Regions from separate parts of the Homo sapiens genome. Here region 2 is linked to region 1. A link means that fine-mapping ties the variant in region 1 to the expression of a gene that starts in the linked region. Tissue or cell type: whole blood. Region 1 holds a variant in brackets; the other region holds the start of a gene. All regions are shown on one strand. Distances are from middle to middle.

Evidence for each region. PIP is the estimated chance that this variant, and not a neighbour inherited with it, causes the effect.
Region 2: AIFM2 starts here. The variant in region 1 is fine-mapped to the expression of AIFM2 in whole blood (TOPMed, PIP above 0.99).

The regions. Positions count from the first base shown.
Region 1 is chr10:70,163,147-70,165,962 of GRCh38, reverse strand. All of the region lies in intron 1 of SAR1A (secretion associated Ras related GTPase 1A), which reads left to right. It also overlaps the pseudogene CALM2P2. Among named protein-coding and RNA genes, the nearest start is that of SAR1A, 6.0 kb to the left of the region's middle. RefSeq lists an enhancer at 1,493-1,572. The variant G/T (reference allele first, on the strand shown) is at 1,607.
Region 2 is chr10:70,131,315-70,133,972 of GRCh38, reverse strand. It overlaps AIFM2 (AIF family member 2), which reads left to right and starts at 1,148. Exons shown (of 9, transcript NM_032797.6): 1 at 1,148-1,239. RefSeq lists silencers at 974-1,293, 1,126-1,335 and an enhancer at 857-1,357.

The DNA of each region.
Region 1 (2,816 bases):
TGTTGACTGATCAGGTTGATGATTGCTAAAGGTTGGGATGGCTGTGGCAGTTTCTTAAAATAAGACAACAAGGAAGTTTGTTGCATCAGTTAATGCTTGTTTTCAAGAAAGATTTCTCTGTAGCATGCAATGCTGTTTGATAGCATTTTACCCAAAGCAGAATTTATTTCAAAATTGGAACCAGTCCTCTTAAACCCTGCTGCTGCTCAAGTAAGTTTATGTAAACTCAAGTAAGTTTTTGTAATTTTCTAAATTGTTGGTGTCATTTCAACAGTATTCATAGCATCTTCACCAGGACTAGATTCCATCTCAAAAAAACCACTTTTTTTGCTTATCCATAAGAAGCATCTCTTTATCCATTAGTTTGATCATGAAATTACAGCAGTTGTCACATCTTCAGGCTCTACTTCTAATTCTAGTTCTCTTGCTGTTTCTACCACATCTAAGGTTACTTCTTCCTCCAAAGTCTCGAACCCCTCAAAGTTTTCCACGAGGGTTGGAATCACTGTCTTCCTAACTCCTGTTAATATTGATATTTTGACCTCTTCCCGTGAATCATAACTGTTCTTACTGGTACCTAGAATGGTGACTCCTTTCCAGGAGGTTTTCAGTTTACTTTGCCCAGATCCAGCAGAGAAATCAGTCTATGGCATTGATGGCTTTGTGAAATATATTTCTTTTTTTTTTTTTTTTTTTTTGAGACGGAGTCTCGCTCTGTCGCCCAGGCTGGAGTGCAGTGGCGGGATCTCGGCTCACTGCAAGCTCCGCCTCCCGGGTTCACGCCATTCTCCTGCCTCAGCCTCCCAAGTAGCTGGGACCACAGGCGCCCGCCACTACGCCCGGCTAATTTTTTGTATTTTTAGTAGAGACGGGGTTTCACCGTTTTAGCCGGGATGGTCTCGATCTCCTGACCTCGTGATCCGCCCGCCTCGGCCTCCCAAAGGAAATATATTTCTTAAATGAAAGACTGGCAAATCGAAAATACTCCTTGATCCATGGGAAGCAGAATGGATGTTGTTAGTAGACATTAAAACAACATTAACTTCTTTCTGCACCTCCATCAAAGCCCATGGGTGACCAGGTGCGTTGTCAATGAGCAGTAATATCTTCAAATCTTTTTTTCTGAGCAATAGGTCTTCACAGTGGGCTTAAAATACTTAGTAAACCATGCTGTAAACAGATGTGTGGTAGGCAGAGTAGATTTAGTATAATTCTTTTTTTAATTGTAATTTTTTTAATTGGAAAACAAATACACAACTTGGAATGGATTTGAGGCAAATTGTGCCATAAGCACATTTTCTTTAAGTGGCTAAACAAAGTTTAAAAAGCAAGTAACAGTAAAAGAAAATGTTTCTGGTACAGGACCAGCAGTACAGAAAAAACAGTGTGTGAGGTACCTGGGAGTACCTGGATAATACACCCATTCTGCAGTAGTGCAACTTTTAAGTACATATTGTTGGCTGTCCGTAGTCCACACAGAGTTACAACTCCATACTTCAACACCATGCTGACAGTTCCTAAAGAAAACTACTTTAAAAAAAGGCATAACCCGGATGTTCCCTTATTTGACCAACTCCACCTAAGTTTAGATGTGCAGAAGGGCTTA[G/T]ATATATCCGGAGTAAGCCACAGGCAACATGTTACTTCATCAGTTTTCTAAAATAAGGTTTCAGGGCAATGACAGTAAGGGAAGAACACATGGAGGAATGAAGTCCTGATTACCATACATGCATATTTTTTTTTGACAGTAGGGAGAAGCCTTTTACAGATAAGTTACAAACAAAAGGCAAATAAACAGTTTTGTGCAAGAAATTTAACACATTCTGTACAAGGTCTTCATTATGCTGTCATCATTTGTACAAACTCATAGTTTACTTGACCATCACCATCAGGATCTGCTTCCCTGATCATTTAATCAACTTCTTCATCTGTTAACTTCACTCCAAGGTTTGTCATCACATGGTGAAGTTCTACACCACTAATATAGCCATTGCCATCCTTATCAAACACACAGAATGTTTCTCTAATTTCTTCTTCACTGTCTGTGTCTTTCATTTTTCTTGCCATCATTGTCAGAAATTCAGGGAAGTCAATTGTGCCATTACCATCAGCATCTACTTCATTAATCATGTCCTGTAACTCTGCTTCTGTGGGATTCTGCCTGAGACCTCATTACAGTTCCTAGTTTCTTTGTTGTTATAGTTCCATCACCATCTTTGTCAAATAGTGAAAAAACTTCTTTGAATTCTACAATCTGCTCCTCAGTCAGTTGGTCAGCCATGCTGCAAGTGCTACTGGTTTCCGAGACGCAACCACACAACCACTCTGCTCGCTCACTTGCTCCACTTGGACTGATTTAGTGTCATTCTTCAGGGCCCTAGGATTTTCAAAATGGTAAATGAGTATGGGTCCTAGGATTTTCAGAATGGTAAATGAGTATGGGTCCTAGGATTTTCAGAATGGTAAATGAATATTGGCCTCAACGTAAAGTCACCTTGCATTAGCCCATAACAAGAGAGTCAGCTTGCCCCTTGAAGCTTTGAAGCCAAGCAATGACATCTCCCCTCTAGCTATGAAAGTCCTAGATGGCTTTTCAAATAGAAGGCTGTTTTGCCTACATTGAAAATGTGTTGTTTAGTGTAGCCACCCACCTTCATCAGTTATCTTGCTGCAGCTTCTACATCAGCACTTGCTTTTTTACCTCGTGTTTTTATTTTATTATTATTTTTTATCAGCAATAAGGCTGTTTCATTTTCTTGACGTTCATGGGTTTGCTGGAGTAGCACTTTTAATTTTCTTCAAGAACTTTTCCTTTGCAT
Region 2 (2,658 bases), 32 kb after region 1:
CTGGCAATACACTGCCTTCCAGGTCATTGTCCTGCCTGTGGGTCTTTGCACATCCAGACCACACTTCCTTCCTCTTTACCTAAATCTACCTCTTTCTCATCCTTGGAGAGAAGTATTTGCACCCTTCCTTTGCCCTCAGTCTTTCTTTTTTATTTTTTCATTTCATTTCATTTATTATTATTATTATTATTATTTTTTTTTTGAGACAGAATCTCACAGTCACCTAGGCTGGAGTGCAGTGGAATGATCATGGTTCACTGTAGCCTCAAACTCCTGGGCTCAAGCAATCCTCCCACCTCAGCTTCCCGAGAAGCTGGGACTACAGGTGTGCACCAACAAGCCCGGCTAATTTTTGTAGGTCTCGCTATGTTGCCCAGGCTGGTCTCCAACTCCTGGGCTCAAACGATCCTCCCGCCTTGGCCTCCCTAAGTGCTGGGACTGTAGGCATGAGCCACCGTGCCTGGCCATGCCCAATCTTTCTTACTGCAGTTGGTGATACATGGTTTTTGTTTTCTCTATACATGTATTTTTTGGTGGTGTGTTTAATATCTGTCTTTTCCCAGACTGTCGCCTCCGTGAAAGCAGGAACCTTGTCAGTTTTCTCTCCAAGTTATCCCTCCAACGCCTAGCACAGTGCCTGGCAAATGTAGGAGCTCAACAGGGTTTGCGGAATTATTATGTGTATGTCTGAAGGAAGGATGTTGGCAGTGCGCCCAACGTGTGAGGGGAACCCCACTCTCCAAGGTTCCAGTGGCTTTAAAGGTGTCCTCGAGAAAATCAGAGGAACAGGGGGATGCTTGTTTTCCTTCCTTCCTTCTCTCTCTCTCTCTCTCTCTCTCTCTCTCTCTCTCTCTCTCTCTCTCTCTCTCTCTCTTTTTTGCTTTAAAGTATGCTGAAAGGACACTTTAAACCAAGTCTGAATGGCTCGGCAGGACTGGGGCGCGGGTGCTGGCAGGAGCCGGAGAGGCGACATCTGGCCATGGGAGCATTTGTTTCAAAGTTCAAGGCCGTTCGCTCAGGGTCAAGGTTAGTCCGGCGGGCCGTTCGGAGACCAGCCCCAGCGTGCCAGGACCGTTTCCGGGGCCTGGCCGGGGCGTTGCCGCGGGGTCGGGGACCAGCACGAGTGCTGAGTCACGCCCCGCCCGGGAGCGCCTCGGGTCAGTAACTCGGGAAGACGACCAAGCGGGAGCGGGAGCGGGAGCGGGAGCCGGAGCGAGAGCGCGCGGGCGCGGCCGACAGGTGAGATCGCGCCGCCAGGCGGGCTCTCGAGACCCCGGGCGCCCCGGGCGGGACCGGGACCCGGAAGAGGGGCGAGCGGATTAGAGGCCTGGCTCACGCCGCGTCTGGCGTGGGGAGGTCGGTGCGCGCAGTTGTGGCGCTGCGAGGAGAGGGATACTCGACTCAGGCCCGCCCCTCTCTGTCTCCCCCAAAAAACGCAACAGGGAGATGTGCTCCTGGCCGAGGGCAAAGAAAACTCCACCCTCCTGGTTTGGCCCCTAAATCCCTGCTAAGTTTTCCTAAGGAAGATGGGCTTAGGCCGGGAAGGGCGAACCGGGGAAGAGGGAACACGGGGCGGGTGTAACCCGGATCTTGCGAGGACCGTCCGAGGGTCCGCTGGGTAGAAGCGGCCGGTCCGGACAGAAGCAGGTGTGAGAGGAAAGGGAGAAACCTCAGTCTCTAAGAGGAAAGAAACTGGAGTCAACCCAGTGCCCATAGGCTCGGGGGAGCTGGGGGGTGCAGCACTAGGAAGTCTGCTTCTCCCTTCCCGAAGCCCTGGGTGCTGCAGGGACAAAGACCAGCGGTGAGTAAACTAACTCTGATGGGACGCGTGCAGTCCACCTGGAACTGAATTAGTGGCCTATATTGGGGCTCTCCTTCCAACACCACCTGATCAACACACCCTACCTTTCCCTACAAGGAGAGTCTTTTTGACCCTGGAATTTAAGGTGAGGATGGGGAGTGGTGAGGTCTCTTGGGGGCTGATGATCCTGTAGGAGGACAGGCATAGGGCAGAGAGTCAGATATAGTTTGGGATGGGACTTGCAGGTTTCTGGACTGTGCACCTGTGTTCAAAAGCCTGTATCAGGTTCCAGTGTGCGTGCATGCACCTGCCAGAGAGCCCCGGGATCTCAGATCACACCTGCCCTCACCCCAGCACCTAGAGAGGAGTTCTCCAAGGAGCACAGTGTGTCACCAAGAAGAGGGCACTGAGCCCCAGCCAGGGTGGGCTGGGCAGGCTTAGCACTACCTAGCCCAGAAGTGATGGGCTGGGCAGGCCGGTGGACTCCAGGGCCAGCCTGACTTTTGTCTGGTGGCCAAATGAAGCCAGCGTCCAGGTACAGGTGGTGGGCAGACCATGGGGACCACAAAACTGGCTCTGAGGAGGATGGACAAATTGCTTGGCCTAGGTTTTCTGTGCGGGAGTGAATATGACATCCAGATGAACCTGTCTGCCCCAGAGCTGCCCTCCCCTGGGGATAAAAGGAGGCTGCCTCCCTTAGACTTTGAGTCCCTTTTCAGAAACTGGTCTTTTGGGGGTTCTGTTCTTCAAGTAGTCCCTGAGGGGCTGGCCATGGAGTGTCCCAGGAAGGGAGGCCGCCCAACCGTCTCCATCCTGCTGTGTCCCGCAGGTGGAGGAAACCTCCATGGTGCTGTGAG